4 linked regions of the Homo sapiens genome follow. The protein of the gene in region 1 interacts with the protein of each later gene in a pairwise test. Each region holds a gene or a part of one and is shown in the gene's direction. Other genes may lie near its edges.

Region 1 (5,054 bases):
GGTGAAGCCGGGGTGCTCTGCTTGTTCTCGCAGTACGGCTTCTCTCACAGGGCAAAGGTCACTCGTGACGTGTCCCAGTCAAAAACGGGGTAAAGTGTGGGGAAACGCACAAAGTGTGTTTTGCTTTTTAGAGAAGAGCGGTTGAGCACACGCCATGCTGGCTGCTCAGGTTGGGGTGCAGCCTGCAGAGAGCTTCCCGAACTTGGGGGTCCTGAGTCCGTAACTGCTCGAAGCGGTGCCTGGATCGTCCGGGTCCCTTCTGTTTACTCACATTGGTTGTGGAGCGCTGACTGGCTTGTGCGCTCCAGGCCTTAGATGGGGACACAGGTGAGGAGCTAGACCCTCTCGGGGTCCTTTGAAGTGCCAGGCGCCCAGAGCACAGCAGGTGCAGGGCTTAACTCAGAACCTCCTGGAGCCCTGCCTGGCACCGTGTCATTGGGAGTCCATGGCACAGGCAGGTACGGGTTTCTGGTGTGCATGGCAGAGGCGTTCTGGCGGCCTCAGCACGTGCACTTTGCCTAAGCTCACGTCCGACACACCGAGGGTTCCAGGTTCCACTCGGTATTTCCTGAAAACAACTGCCCAGGGCACTGGCGCTGACCGGGGCCCCTGCAGACGGCTGGGTCTCCACCCCACTCCACCAGCAACCAGGCCTCCACCCCACTCCACCAGCAACCAGGCCTCCACCCCACTCCACCAGCAACCAGGCCTCCACCCCACTCCACCAGCAACCAGGCCTCCACCCCACTCCACCAGCAACCAGGCCTCCACCCCACTCCACCAGCAACCAGGCCTCCACCCCACTCCACCAGCAACCAGGCCTCCACCCCACTCCACCAGCAACCAGGCCTCCACCCCACTCCTCCATCAACCAGGCCTCCACCCCACTCCACCAGCAACCAGGCCTCCACCCCACTCCACCAGCAACCAGGCCTCCACCCCACTCCTCCAGCAACCAGGCCTCCACCCCACTCCACCAGCAACCAGGCCTCCACCCCACTCCACCAGCAACCAGGCCTCCATCCCACTCCTCCAGCAACCAGGCCTCCACCAGCAACCAGGCCTCCACCCCACTCCACCAGCAACCAGGCCTCCACCCCACTCCTCCAGCAACCAGGCCTCCACCCCACTCCACCAGCAGCCAGACCCATGCTCAGGGCCTCATCAGCGACCTTTCACCTGTGGAGCATGGTTTACCCCAGGCCCCTTCGGCCGCTGCAGGTGTGCGGGTGGTTTCGGGATGGCATTGTCCTGCCTGGGCCCATCCTCTCTCTTCCCCTCAGAAGTGGCAGTGGTGGACAGAGGGTCGAGGAGACATAGGATGCAGAGTGGGGAGGTCTTTCGTGGTTGTTTGGAATCGATTTACTTCCTGCGTTCTTCTGGGATACTTTTGAATTTCAGCTGTTTCATGTGGAAACATTTGAAGTATATCAGCAGAGGGTTTTCCAAATCACTTTAGACCTGAGGCTCAGCTTTTGTCTCATTCGTTTGACCAAGTGACCTGCAGTTCAGTGGCCCTGCCTTTAGCTGTGGACAAGGAGAAAGAAGCCGTGGGCACACATGGTGCAAGGGAGACCCTTTAAAATGACCTGAAAACCCACCTGAGCAGGCTTTGAGGACAGGAACCCATTTTTAGCGGCAGAAACCTGCATTTGGGGATCTCCTGAGTGAGGGCTGCACCTGTACCGCTGGGGGCCAGGCCCCAGGCTGGACACCCTTGACCCCTCCGTTTAGAGATGAGGAAACTGAGGCTGAGCACAGTCCAGGACTTGATAAGGACATGGGTGGGGGCGGGGCCGCGGGAATGCCGGGGGCAGCTGCTGTCGGGCTGCTTTGTGCCCCCACCCTGACTCACTGGCCTCTCTGGTCCCCGGCCCCGCAGGTGTACATCGGTGAGCTCCCGCAGGACTTCCTCCGCATCACGCCCACACAGCAGCAGCGGCAGGTCCAGCTGGACGCCCAGGCGGCCCAGCAGCTGCAGTACGGAGGCGCAGTGGGCACCGTGGGCCGACTGAACATCACGGTGGTACAGGTGGGCCTTGGGGCACCCTCCTGCCTGCCTGGGGCTGGTGCGCTCGGTGGGGGTGGGATTTCGGATTTCGGCGTTTATACTGCATTTCCTAAGCGGGCAAACAGAACTTCTGATTCCCGCTTTTCCTGAAACCTGTGTGATGTTGAAAACGATCTGTGTGAAAGATATTGGCATTGACCCCGGGTTCTACCAAACATAACTCAAGTGATGAGTAGTGGGTGTAGGTGGGCGTCTGCTCTGTGTAGGGCCTGGCTCTTCCACCAGGCTTGAGTACGCCCAAGGACACCTCCCGGACCCCCGCCGGCAGCTGGAGGAGGCGCGGCCGGCACCCCCGCCACCTGGTGTGTGCTGCGTGAGTGGCTTCCTGTTGGCCTCAGTGCCGGTGCCTGCACCCTCCCTCCCCACAGAGCAGCCCTCGGTCAGCCTCGGGGCCGGCCCGTGGTTGCTTAGTGGTCTTTCAAGTGAAAGCCAAAATCGGCAGATTGAACGCCGATTTTGATCACACGAAAACCGTCTGTAAGACTGCAGGAAAAGGAAACACACTGTGAGCCACGCAGGCTTTCGTAGAAATGCAGGGAAAGGAGACACACTGTGAGCCACGCAGGCTTTCGTAGAAATGCAGGGAAAGGAGACACACCGTGAGCCACGCGGGCTTTCGTAGAAATGCAGGGAAAGGAGACACACCGTGAGCCACGCGGGCTTTCGTAGAAATGCAGGGAAAGGAGACACACCGTGAGCCACCCGGGCTTTCGTAGAAATGCAGGGAAAGGAGACACACCGTGAGCCACGCGGGCTTTCGTAGAAATGCAGGAAAAGGAGACACACCGTGAGCCACGCGGGCTTTCGTAGAAATGCAGGAAAAGGAGACACACCGTGAGCCACGCGGGCTTTCGTAGAAATGCAGGGAAAGGAGACACACCGTGAGCCACGCGGGCTTTCGTAGAAATGCAGGGAAAGGAGACACACCGTGAGCCACGCGGGCTTTCGTAGAAATGCAGGGAAAGGAGACACACCGTGAGCCACGCGGGCTTTCGTAGAAATGCAGGGAAAGGAGACACACCGTGAGCCACGCGGGCTTTCGTAGAAATGCAGGGAAAGGAGACACACCGTGAGCCACGCGGGCTTTCGTAGAAATGCAGGGAAAGGAGACACACTGTGAGCCACGCGGGCTTTCGTAGAAATGCAGGGAAAGGAGACACACTGTGAGCCACGCGGCTTTCGTAGAAATGCAGGGAAAGGAGACACACTGAGCCATGCGGGCTTTCGTAGAAATGCAGGGAAAGGAGACACACCGTGAGCCACGCGGGCTTTCGTAGAAATGCAGGGAAAGGAGACACACTGTGAGCCACGCGGGCTTTCGTAGAAATGCAGGGAAAGGAGACACACTGTGAGCCACGCGGGCTTTCGTAGAAATGCAGGGAAAGGAGACACACTGTGAGCCACACGGCTTTCATAGAAATGCAGGGAAAGGAGACACACTGAGCCATGCGGGCTTTTGTAGAAATGCAGGGAAAGGAGACACACTGTGAGCCACGCGGGCTTTCGTAGAAATGCAGGGAAAGGAGACACACTGTGAGCCACGCGGCTTTCATAGAAATGCACAAATACAGCAGGCAGAAGAATCGCCGTGGACCTCACAAATAAGACTTGCTTTCAGGGGCTTCATGGTGTGGTGAGCACAGCTACACCGTCACCCCTTCCTCGCGGCGTGTCTCAGACCCTTGCTTGTGCAGCTGTTACTGTGCTGGTGTGGCCGATCCCTCTGCCCACCCAGTGAACTCCCGTAAGCCCATGCATTCCTGTGCCAGCTGCCACCAGGCCAGCCAGTGCCATCACCCGTCCTCAGCCGCCACCTCCTGGCAGGGCCTGGTGACCGCAGGGCACTCCACCTCACACAGTTCAAGCTCCAGAGCTGGCTGGGCCTTGGAGGTGGCCCTGGCGTTGCCCACGCCTCTGGCCCCCCTTGGTCCTCTCCCGCACCCTGGAGCCCACCACAGGCAGCCTGTTTCCTCCACGTGAGCTCACCCAGCCTTCTGTGGCGCAGCTCCAGTGGTGGGAAACATTCCTGCCTCCTCACTGGGCCAGGTAGCTCAGCCCCTGTTTCCTGCTTCTCTTGGCTTCTGGGCGGCCACACAGGTGGTTCCCTGCTTGCGTCCCCTCGCTGCTTCCCCTTGTTGTCTCCTGGGGCCCCAGTGGGATGCCAAGGGGTCTGGTCCTCAGCCCTCCTCCCCTCTCTGCCCACACATCCCGGTGACTTCTGCATCCCTGTGGGTCTAAACACCCATGTGCTGGCCCCAGCCTGAGCCGACCACTCAGCTCCACCCCAGATCCCTAGGTACGGACCATGGCCACATGGCCTCCCCAGGTGTTCCGTGGGCACTCCGGACTCCGTGTGCCCAAGGTGGAGCTCTCGGGCCACCCTCCCGGCTTCTCCCCCGTGTCCGCAGGTGGCTGCCCCACACTCTGGAAGCTGAGGCCCAAAGCCCTCGTGCTGCTGGTGCTCCAGGTTCATGTCCACCTCTTGCCCTTCAGGCCTGACCCTCAGCACAGGCGCCACCTTCAGCCCGTCCAGGCCTGGAGCCCCCCGCACCCACCCACTGCCCCCGCTCAGCCCCTGCAGCGTGGCCAGAGTAGGTCCGTTCCCGCGTGGGCCTTTCTCGTGGGCACTGTCCTGCCGAGCCTGCTCCAGCTGGGCCCATGTTTTCCTCACCCTAGTCACTCCTGACCTTCCTCTTCCCTGGCCGTTCTCCTCCCGCTTCCTGCAGCTCTTCCTCCAGATCCTGCAGCCCGCATACCCGGTCCTCCTAGCTGGTCACTCCCTGCAGTGGTAACGCCGTCTGCTGCGCTGTGTGTCTGCCGCGCATCTCTTGCCCATTGTGGGGAAAGCAGCGGTGCCCGTGTGTCCCCACGGTGTCTGCTGTCTGACGTGCGTCTCTTGCCCGTTGTGGGGGAGGCAGCGGTGCCCGTGTGTCCCCACGGTGTCCACAGTGTCTCCTGCACCAGAACAGCATGTGGTTGTGTG
Region 2 (3,836 bases), on another chromosome or scaffold:
CTTTTTAAAGCAAAATTTTAAAGATATTTATTGTTTATTCTTAGTTGGAAATAGGAAGTTTTTTCCCCAGTGACTTATCCCTTTGGAAATTTTTTAAATTATATGTTTGATACCTCATTGGAACATAAACAATACAATATATTAACACTTCTATTCTGACCTACTGTGTAATTGTTAGAAAGAGGTATAAAATTAATATATTGACCTTTATATTCTGCACAGACCACTCGCTACCTCATTCGAAGGCCGACATGGCAGTGTGCGCTATTGGGTGAAAGCCGAATTGCACAGGCCTTGGCTACTACCAGTAAAATTAAAGAAGGAATTTACAGTCTTTGAGCATATAGATATCAACACTCCTTCATTACTGGTAAGAATTGACTGAATTATTTATTCTTTGTTTTTGGCATATAAATATTAAAGAATAATCAATCACCTAAACTATGCAGTTGTCATAATTTAAAAATACTGGTTTTCTTTTAAAATTTCATAAATATACATTTTCTTAAATACAGTCAAGAACACTGAAATTAATGAAAAATATGCTCATATTTTTGACATTGTAGTATACCTTTAAGTAAATATAAAACTAAGACCAGTATATGATATGAAGTATCTCTTACTCAGAGTATGACAGCCATAACAAAAAACAGATCTGGTCCTTGGATGATTTGAGTGGAAGAAGAGCAGTAGTATCTTTTATTATAATACAATATCACTTACTTGACAATATCATAATCTAAAATTTGTACTATACTTTGTTATTCCAATAGAGGGATAGTTGTCAAATAATGGGGAATCATTAGTTTCATTAAAAAACTCCTTTTTTAAAGAAATCTATTTTTAATTGCATTTGTCTGAAAATAATTCAAATTTGACTTAAAACTTTATTTGATTTAAACAAATGGTAACATCTTTAAAGCACATAAGAAATGGGCATTTTCCTTTTTTACATATTGATTTTTTAATAGTCTCAGAGAAAGATGTTAACATTTGGAATTATAATCAGATTGCTTTCTTTGCTGCCTTTTTAAGGCAGTTTAAATGGAATGTGGAAAGGGTTTTTTTTATTTGGTTGGTTTTTGATTACTATATTTGTAAATAGTGTGAGCTAAAAAACTATGTTTATGGGATAGGCTGTAAACCCTTTACCTTTTTTTTCTAATTGAATGGAAATTTATATGAAAATAAAAGTAATGGTATAATTCAAAACCATCGGTTAGTTAAAAAATAAGAAGTATGTCTGGATACAAAAAAAAAGCAAAACCAGTTGTAATTTTTAATTTTCCATAAATTTAGGGTTATATTTTAAAATATTCTGGTATTGATTGTACCAATCCATACACTGACCTTTTTCTCTTAATTTTTTTCTTACAGTCACCCCAAGCAGGCACAAAAGAAAAGACACTCTGTTGCTGGTTCTGTACCTCAGGCCCAATATCCTTAAGTGCCAAAATTGAAAGGAAGGGCTATACCCCAGGTATGTAAGAGGTAGATTCCCACAAAAAACTTTTCTTCACTTAGCTTTTGTGTTTAAATTTATAATATGACTACTAAATATAAACATAATATAGTATTCTTTTGTGAAATAACAAATTGTGCTTATCCATTTGTTTTTTTCACAAAGTAGAATGTAGTTTCCTTTTTCAAATAGCTACTGATTAGTTCATTTCTATGACTCAAGTTATTTGCAGTTCCTGGGACATCTTTTCATGTATGTTAGTTGCACTTTCTTACTTTAGCTTTAAGAATCTTGACTTCTTTTGTTGTTTTTTTCTAACAGTAGATATGTATATATTTTTCCCTCTCTAGGTGAATCAATTCAGATATTTGCTGAGATTGAGAACTGCTCTTCCCGAATGGTGGTGCCAAAGGCAGCCATTTACCAAACACAGGCCTTCTATGCCAAAGGGAAAATGAAGGAAGTAAAACAGCTTGTGGCTAACTTGCGTGGGGAATCCTTATCATCTGGAAAGACAGAGACGTGGAATGGCAAGTTGCTGAAAATTCCACCAGTTTCTCCCTCTATCCTCGACTGTAGTATAATCCGCGTGGAATATTCACTAATGGTATGTACACATTTAAGAGGTTTTTTCCTTTCTTTTTTCTTTTTTGAAACACCTGTCACCCAGGCTGGAATGCAGTGGCACAGTCTCAGCTCCGCTACAGCCTCTGCTTTCTGGGCTCCAGTGATCCTCCCACCTCAGCTCCCAAGTAGTTGGGACTACAGGTGTGCCTATAGCCATGCCTGGATAATTTTTGTATTTTTTGTAGTGATGGAGTTTGACCATGTCGCCCAGGTTGGTCTTGAACTCCTGGGCTCAAGTGATCCATCCACCATGGCCTCCCAAAATGTTGGAATTATAGGCATGAGCCACAGTGCCTGGCCCAAGAGGTTTTTGGTGTTTTTTTTTGTTTTGTTTTTAAGTCTTAAAGTTATGACATAGTTTTGTCTTACATCCAGGATTTGATTTTTTTAAATTCCATATATAGTGACATATAAAATACATAACTCTTTATATAGTTTGACTTACAATTATACCTTATATGTAAATGTACTATACAGAATTATACATAAAAGAGAAACTTTTCATGTATGTAAGTTTAAAAATGAAGTAAATGGGGGTTTCAAATAACATTAAAATTGGTTATGAGTTTTTGAAAAGGAAATCATACTTGGCATTCTAAACTTAATATTTCTTTGCAATGTTTAGGTATATGTGGATATTCCTGGAGCTATGGATTTATTTCTTAATTTGCCACTTGTCATCGGTACCATTCCTCTACATCCATTTGGTAGCAGAACCTCAAGTGTAAGCAGTCAGTGTAGCATGAATATGAACTGGCTCAGTTTATCACTTCCTGAAAGACCTGAAGGTAATTTGATAATACACGTCTAAGCTTAATCTCTTACTACTATTATCAAGAAAATTATTTTGCCTCTGATATTTTATGACCCTAGATGAACATAATCTTTTCCTAAAGAAAGTAGATGTGCCCCTAATATTCAGTTTTGATTATATGTCTTCATAGTTTTGATCACCAAACAATAATTATTTTACCTTGACGTTGCTTTTTAATACCTACTATTCTGTGTATTTTGACATGCATAAGAACATGCTGTTCGAATTGCGTGTATCTTTTTCCTTCAGCACCACCCAGCTATGCAGAAGTGGTAACAGAGGAACAAAGGCGGAACAATCTTGCACCAGTGAGTGCTTGTGATGACTTTGAGAGAGCCCTTCAAGGACCACTGTTTGCATATATCCAGGAGTTTCGATTCTTGCCTCCACCTCTTTATTCAGAGGTAAGTACCTACTCCTTAAGTATGAAATGAACTGGCTATCTTGGGAAATAGCATTGCAGGCATTTTTTTTTCTTAATGTTATTAGATCTTGATTATCATGTTAACAGAACAAATAATTTAAAACAACAGATTAAAAGTTAATATTAGGTTCATCAATATTTACTAAGTTTGATGCAGAGGTAGGACTGTTCACTTATTAGGGAATTAAGATAATGATCTAACCTCATGTTGAATTACTAATTTTTTTTTCTCTTAAACTTTTATCTTGAGACACATTTTTTGAAGGAAGAATTTTGTATATCCAAGCATCAATAGGAAGAACTAGCATTTTGCAAACACTGATTAAATAGTAGAATTTATCTTATTCATGATGCTTTTCCAATTGCATATTTTGACATTCTCAGTCATAAGAAATAATGTATTTGTGATAACATCTTAAAACAACATTCCCACATGGTTAGACTATTTTCGTTCATCTCATATTGATGGCAGCTAAGCACTTAAATGTAAATAAAACATGGCCCTTAGG
Region 3 (3,836 bases), on another chromosome or scaffold:
ACAGAACAACCACTTAAAGGAGTGTCATGCTTAAGCTATGGTTTTGGGGTTTTTTGTTGTTGTTGTTTTTTGACAGAGTCTTGCTGTGTTGTCCAGGCTAGAGTGCAGTGGTGTGATCTCAGCTCACTGCAACCTCTGCCTCCTGGGTTAAAGCGATTCTCATGCCTCAGCCTCCCAAGTATCTGGGATTACAGACGTGTGCCACCACGCCAGGCTAATTTCTGTATTTTTAGTAGAGATGGGGTTTCACCATATTGACCAGGCTGGTCTCAAACTCCTGACATCAAGTGATCCGCCCGCCTCAACCTCCCAAAGTGCTGGGATTACAGGTGTGAGCCACCGCACCCAGCCTGAGCTATAGTTTTTGAGAGAATTGAGATGTGGCAGCAAAGTCAAGTGATTTAGTGTGGTTTTTTCCCAAGAGGATCACTGCTTGAAACAGCAGGGTGGTCAAGGATCAGGGTCATTAATCATCCCAGGAGACAGCAGGAGGAGCCTGTCGAGGGTGGGCTCTCAGCCAATTATGTCTGCCACCTTGTACAGCACATTCCCAGCAGTCACACTGCTCACTGCTTACACTGTCAGCAGGGCAAATGATTTGTTAAGTCAGGGCCTCAAAGGGTTATCGTCTTCACTGAGAGTTTCCTGTGGCAAGCACAAGTTTCTCAACCCACTCATTTCTCATATCCTTCCTTATGGAATATGGCTGCAGTGATGCTTTTAATGCAGGGAGTCAGTTCAGCCATCTGGTCTCCACAATAATTTGTAGAAAGATACACTTTGGGGAATCACAATCTAAAAAGTAGCTGAAACTCTTAGTAATTATACCTGGATATACTTCAAGCAGAGGGAGACAGAAGACTTACCTTTGAAGGGTGCCTTCCTTACAGCCCCCATCTGACATCCACACGTATCTGGTGCCTGAAGAAATGTGTTAGGCCACTGGATACTTTGGGCCCAGAGTCCAGCTTGACAGGACTTTTGGTGGGTTCTATAGGTCACCCAAGGCTTGCCTAAGCCTTTATTTCCCCCTCAGTGTATACTTGCTGAGAATAGAGATTCTTGGGTTAGTTGAACTCAGTATTTAGTTATTTCAGATTTGGGTTCTCTGAAGCTTCTGCATATAAAAAATGGATTGTTACACATGAGAGAACTTTGACAACTGTAAAGCCTTGTGCTGAGTAAGATGGTGTCAGTGATTATCATGGCACCAAGAATTACAATCCTTCTCAGATTCTTGGCTTCCTTTTTTTTTTTGCTGGGTGGTGGGAGCAAAAACCTTGTCTCCCCCTCCACAAAATGGGGAAATTTTTACTGTTGGTGTATCTATTACTGTGCCACAACCACTTCTACATTTGTGTGTTTGTGTGTGTGTCATTAACTGTAATCATTTCTGAAATGTTTTATTAGAAAAAGTCAGAGCTTAAAGATTCTTCCCAAAGAATAAACTTTTGGCAAATCAGAAGGTCTTTTATTCCTCCACTTAGCTGGTTTGTCCCTTTTGAGTGATAATGGCTCTTGTCTGGGTTGGAGGGCTCTGTCAGGTGTTTGTGTAGAATTAGGGAGACAAGTAATGCATGCTTCACTCTACTTGTTGATAGAGCAGTTTTACAGGTTCAGTGTCTCTGGTTAGGGGTTACCATTGAGAGTACTTTTGTAGTTTTTTTTTAAGACAGTGTCTCACTCTGTCACCCAGGCTGGAATGCAGTGGTGTGATCTTAGCTCACTGCAGTCTCTGCCTCCTGGGCTCAAGTGATCCTCCCACCTTAGCCTCCCAAGTAGCTAGGACTGCAGGAGTGTGCCACCACGCCTGGCTAATTTTTATATTATATTTTGTAGAGCCAGGGTTTCACCATGTTGCCCAGGCTGGTCTTGAACGCCTGAGCTCAAGCAGTTCACCCCGCTTGGCCTCCCAAAGTGCTGGGATCATAGGCAAGAGCCACCACACCCGGCCAAGAAGTACCTCTTAACATAAATCCTTGCATCTTACCATAGTTGTGTGATGATCTGATTAAGGTCTTCTCCAGCACACATAAGCTCCAGTGATGGAGCTTATGGAGAAAAAACAGCACTGCCTTTTTTTTTTTTTTTTTTTTTTTTTGAGACTGTCTCAGTCTGTCACCCAGGCTAGAGTGCAGTGGTGTGATCTTGGCTCACTGCAACCTCTGCCTCCTGGGCTCAAGTGATCCTCCCACCTCACCCTTCCAAGTAGATGGGACTACAGACACCCACCACCATGCCCAGCTAATTTTTGTATGTTTTTGTAGAGACGGAGTATCACCATGTTGCCCAGGCTGGTGTCAAACTCTGAGCTCAAACAACCCATCCGCCTTGGCCTCCCAAAGTGCTGGGATTATAGGCGTGAGCCACCACGTCTGGCCAGAAACTGCACTGTTTTTGTTCACTTTTGTTTCTTCAACATCTAGCACAATGTCCTAGCCCATGGTAGGCAATAAAGTAGTGAATGAATAAGTGAATGAAGTATCCAGAGCTTCATGTCACATGTGGGGGATTGAATAAGTCCCTGGCATTATTTTGAATAGCGATCTCTTGTACAGTCTTAAGCCCTGGTGACCTGATGTTTCTGATTGCATGCAGTCTTGCCCCTTGCCAGACCTAATAATGTAGCATGCAGCCAGTAGCTTCTCTGGGGCCCCCAGAGAGGGTCTCTGGTCCTAACCATAACCTGACAACCTCTCTGTCTTGTTTTTTGCAGGTTGTGGACCTGGCCTATTAGCAGATGCCAAGATGCGGGTATTTGAACGTTCAGTGTATTTTGGTGATTCCTGCCAAGATGTTCTTAGCATGCTTGGCTCTCCACACAAAGTCTTCTATAAATCAGAAGACAAGGTAGGGGAATTATGTTGCAGTCTCCTCCTTTTTTTTAATCAACACTAATTTAATATTGAGTATAAACTGTTTGCTATTTTCCCATAGAACTTGTTCTAAGTAAAGCTAATGGTAAAGTAAATTGAAAACTGTTTTCTAACCCCTGTAGTCCAATTACCCTGACTCTGTCCCTCTCCATAGTGCCTACCTTTCCTTAGAGACCAAGACAGTCCCTAGTCAACGACAGCTGGCCCCCTCTCCTCCTAGATTGGTCAGCACCAGCAGCTGAGACTCCCCACTCTTGCTTGTTCCGCAGCTTAATGTTACACATGGAACACAATTTGTAGACTTTCAGTTAATCCAGAACTATATTAGAGGGATGGATTTTAATTTATGGTTATTTTTTCCCTACAGATGAAAATTCATTCTCCTTCCCCTCATAAACAAGTTCCATCGAAGTGTAATGACTACTTTTTTAACTACTTCACTCTTGGAGTGGTAAGTTGTGATTCCTCAGAGAAGCCCTTCATTTCTATTGGGGTGGGCAGTGCATCTTTGCAGATCTGTGTGTCCACATGCAGCTGGAACCATGCCTGGACATTGGGGAACCTAGCCCCAGCTGTCTTTGCCCAGGGTTGTTTTGCATAGGCTCTGGTACTCCAAAGTAGACCTTGCCTGCAACCAGGATTGCTCAGGAACACTAGGTTCCCTGGTACCTGTTGACTTCTTTTCTGAGGGAAACATGTTCCACAGATGGAGGCCTTGGAAATCATTCAGATTAAGCTGTTTGGAGAGCTGCCCTTTTGTAAAGCATAGGACCCTCTTCTTGAGTCACAAAATGGAGACTGAAAAGGATTGGAGACAGTGGGGTGTGCTTGTATATTTTTAGAGGACCACCCCAGAGGCATTGCTGTATCCCTGTGCTATGGACCCAGGGAGCTGGATATAGCTGGTAGCTGGCCAGTGCGGACAGTCCAGCTGGTGGGTGAGTTGCATACATGAGAAAT
Region 4 (3,836 bases), on another chromosome or scaffold:
GCTCAAGGAATGCACCCACCTCAGCCTCCCCAGTAGCTGAGACTATAGGCAAGTGCCACCGTGCTGGCAGTGGCTTCATAACATGTTTCAAGGAAATTTAGCTCCTGTGTTAAGAGAAGGAGCTATAGAAGTAGAAGATAATGAGGGCCCTTGTCCAGATATAGAAGGTTTAAAGGAGAAAGGATTTCAGGTTTCCTTCTGAATTCCTGTGTATGTCGTTAGGACCCCAAATTGTAGGTTTTTTGTTTTATTAAACGATAATTATGCACTTGTCTAATTTTGTTAGGGAACCGAAGGCCAACTTCCCATGATTTAAATACCTGAATTTGCATTGCCTGCACACTGTAGGTTCAACCAAATCTCTGGGTTGTCTTTAGAAGCATTTTATGTAAATAATCACGAATGAGTGACTTGTTTTAAGGGAAATTTAAGCTCCTGTGGTCTGGGATTAAATTTTTATGCCTTTTCTTGTATGGAATAAGGCATTCAGTAAAGTTGAAGAATAATAACAATGAACAGTAATTACTGAAATTAAAATTTTTCCCTGAGTATTTGAAAAGGCATGCTGATTTTTTGGTTTCTGGAGGAACTATGAACTGTCAGTCTTTAGAAACAGTCTACAGTCCTACCTCAACAGGAAGTTAATGTATACATTCAGCTTCTGTCAGATGTCTTTAGACAAGCCTGTTGCTTCATGCTGAAGCAGGCTTATTCATTCACACAGTGCCACTGTGAAAAATTGAAGGGTGAGGGGAAACTCCCTGGGCTGTTGAATTTCACAAATGTCTACTTTAACCTCAAGAGTTTAGATGCGCCCTTTCTGGGCCAGTAATCATCTAGGAAATGGGATATCTGAATTTAGATGTTTGTGTGTGACTGTGTGATGCTTATTAATATGTATATATAGAGTATTTGGAAAATCAATCTTAAAATGCAAATCTTTGATTTTGTAAAAAACATTTCAGGAAATGTTCTATACTAAAATACATTTTCTTTATGTTCTTTCATGTTTTCCTTGATAGCTAAAGCTAGTGTTTTCAGCCTGAGCTTACCCAAATATAATTTTCCATGAATGCTTAGTAAAACAGCAATGAAAAAGGAATCCACTTGTTATTTTAGAAACATTTTATTTAGACCAAGTCCAATGTTTTTTGAGTCTCAAGATACATGTTAATTTTTGTGCCTTGTGTATCATATTTCCTTCCTTATTAACTAGAGGGTGGATTACCCACTTTCTTGGGTTTTCAGTTAGTACTTTTATCCATCAGTTTTCTACTAAGGTAAACAGACTGGAAGATAAATAGTAAAAGGAGGTGAAACAAATGAATTTCAGGTGTTTCCAGGAGATTAAAACCATATTGAGCTATTGGAAACTTTTAATCCTCAAGCAACAACAATGCTTTGTTTGAAGTTATTTTAGTGCAATATGGACAAAACTTGGGAAAGGAATTTTTGACTGCTCAAGAAAAATAAGTGGATTGCTTATACCTTAGAATATATATATATACACACACACATATATATATTTTTTATTTTTTCAAAAGTGCACTTCAGAATTGGGCTAATGTATTTTCAGCCCAACTTAATGCAGTGTAGTTAGCAAAACATCCAAAAGGCTTCATCATGTTGTGGTCTTTAGGCCTAAAATGTTTTAAAATGTGAACATTTATGTGATACCAAGTAAACTTTCTATGACCCAAAGAAGGGCTAGAAATAAAACTTTACAGAGATGTTCTAGTATATTAGAAAACAATGGCTGGTTATGGTGGTTCATGCCTATAATCCCAGCACTTTGGGAGGCCAAGGCAGGAAGATTGCTTGAGGCTAGGAATTCTAGACCAGCCTGGGCAATGTAGTGACATCCTGTCTTTACAGAATATTTAAAAAAACAAAAAAACGAAAAACTAGCTGGGTATGGTGGCATATGCCTATAGTTTGAGCTATTCAGGAGGCTGAGGCAGGAGGATCACTTGAACTTAGGAGTTTGAGGTTGCAGTGAGCATAATCATGCCATTGTGTTCCTGCCTGGGCGACAGTGCGACCGTGTTTCTTAAAAAAAACTAGTTGCTGTTAAGGTAGGCCTACCACATTTGTAATCTCTTGAGGCAAATCTGTGTTGTTTCTCTAAGAGCAGTCACTTAGAAGATAATCTGACAGTAAGGAATGGTCTACTGAATCCCAGATCTGGTAGTCTGCCTTGCCCAATCACAACATAGTTTGTGTAAAACTCCAACTGCTACTGAACCATCAGATAATTTCTTGAGGAAGCCGTTTCTCTTAAGGAGAAGTGTGTGTGTGTTGGAGGGAGTGTTGGTGGGGAGAAGAGGGGTAAAGAGAAGATGATACTAGTAAAATAATCTAGTTTTGTAGGTTGGGATGATCACTGGAATTTTTTAGGGGAAATATTCTCAAAAAAAGTTGTAAGAGCTACTTTTGTATGGGTTATCAGTTTGGTGATTTAGACTATAGTAATTGCATTGTTTAATATGCATTGTATTTCGATTAATTCATGCATGCTGATTTCTGTGGTAACAAATGTGAAAAGTTTGGCTGATGGCTTAAGTGGACATTTTCTTAAGAACTCTTTAAGTGGTGCCTGTTGGGATAAACTATGCCAAGCCATTTTCTGAATCTTCATGAAGAATGAGCTTTGTATGCATATATATTAAGACAGTTTTTTTTAAAAAGAGCATGTATTTTACTGTTGGTAATTGTAAAGTTTTTGCTTTTTAGAACTTTAAGAGTCCGTTTTGTTGCTGCTACTGAATGCTAATGTGGTTAGGCTGGCAGCTAAACCTACAAAGAACAAGGGGAAATGAGGAAATGTCCCAATGAAACATTGCTTAAAACTGTTTGCGCAGTGGACTAGAAATGGGGAGTTGGGGACTAGGGGACCTGATTCTTGTTTTATGTTCAAAGGAGAGTGAAGCATTCTCTCCATTAAGAAATAACCTCCTTAAGTGTATTCTCACTTTGGAGTTTTGCCACTCATTCATTCACCTGACGATGATTAAAGATATACCACATTCTGGGCATGTACTAGGTGCTAGAGTAACAAATCTTGGGCCTTGTCGTGTAGAGCAGAAAGGTATGGGCTCAACTAGCTATGTTACAACTTCTAGAGAACCAAAATAGAGCAAACAAAGAGTGGTGTGGGATTATAGGAGGAGGGAGAAATTCCTTCTAGGGAGAGGAGAATGATACACAGAGAAAAGTGAGGTTAGGGAAGACTTTTCACATAGGGGAAGTTTGAGTAGGACTTGGAAGGGGGAGTAGCTGCATTACTGATGGAGAAGAGGGGCTGAGAGGAAGGGCATCAGTAGTCTGATTTGAGAACTAGCAAGTGGATTTTGCTCGACTTGGAGAATAGTGGAAAGTGAAACTGATAAGGTTGTGGCCATATTGGGAAGAGTTTGTAATTCCATGCTCATGAGTGTGAACTTTATTCTATAGGCATTTAGGGACCATAAGAGGTTTGAGTAGGACATCCACTATGGTTTTTAAAAAGATGACATGTAAAGATTTGACTAGAGACTTGTGAGAGTATTGAATTGTGATGTAAAAGGACATCGATTCTGGGGATAATTTTTACTTCACAGTTGTCAGATTTGAGTGACAATTGAGTAAAGAGTTAAAGATTATAGTGTGGTTATTGGGTGATGATGATGCCTTTAAGATAGGGAATGTATAGGAAGAACAGAATTTGAGGAGGAAGGTAATAGAGTATGACTCCAGATGTGTTAAGATATCTGGGAATCAAGAAAGGTCAAGTAAGTACCTGGGTATTTGGGCTGGAGCTCAAGGGGACATTGGGATAAATTAGGGGATTTGCATTC

What was found. Proteins that work in one complex are often made in the same cells at the same time.
Region 2: the proteins of TOLLIP (region 1) and ARRDC3 interact in binary tests that used the Homo sapiens proteins (3 or more experiments, as listed by UniProt).
Region 3: the proteins of TOLLIP (region 1) and PHAF1 interact in binary tests that used the Homo sapiens proteins (3 or more experiments, as listed by UniProt).
Region 4: the proteins of TOLLIP (region 1) and NRF1 interact in binary tests that used the Homo sapiens proteins (3 or more experiments, as listed by UniProt).

What each region holds. Positions count from the first base shown.
Region 1 is NC_000011.10:1,292,623-1,297,676, reverse strand, and holds part of TOLLIP (toll-interacting protein), read left to right. Parts: exon of another isoform or gene 1-1,149; coding exon of another isoform or gene 1,150-1,221; intron 1,222-1,882; coding exon 1,883-2,032; intron 2,033-5,054. UniProt on the Homo sapiens protein: Component of the signaling pathway of IL-1 and Toll-like receptors. Inhibits cell activation by microbial products. Recruits IRAK1 to the IL-1 receptor complex. Inhibits IRAK1 phosphorylation and kinase activity.
Region 2 is NC_000005.10:91,373,155-91,376,990, reverse strand, and holds part of ARRDC3 (arrestin domain-containing protein 3), read left to right. Parts: intron 1-222; coding exon 223-370; intron 371-1,377; coding exon 1,378-1,480; intron 1,481-1,812; coding exon 1,813-2,069; intron 2,070-2,714; coding exon 2,715-2,877; intron 2,878-3,114; exon of another isoform or gene 3,115-3,152; coding exon 3,153-3,307; intron 3,308-3,836. UniProt on the Homo sapiens protein: Adapter protein that plays a role in regulating cell-surface expression of adrenergic receptors and probably also other G protein-coupled receptors.
Region 3 is NC_000016.10:67,137,268-67,141,103, forward strand, and holds part of PHAF1 (phagosome assembly factor 1), read left to right. Parts: intron 1-2,716; coding exon 2,717-2,850; intron 2,851-3,243; coding exon 3,244-3,327; intron 3,328-3,836. UniProt on the Homo sapiens protein: Plays a regulatory role in autophagic activity. In complex with BCAS3, associates with the autophagosome formation site during both non-selective and selective autophagy.
Region 4 is NC_000007.14:129,614,547-129,618,382, forward strand, and holds part of NRF1 (nuclear respiratory factor 1), read left to right. Parts: intron 1-3,836. UniProt on the Homo sapiens protein: Transcription factor that activates the expression of the EIF2S1 (EIF2-alpha) gene. Links the transcriptional modulation of key metabolic genes to cellular growth and development.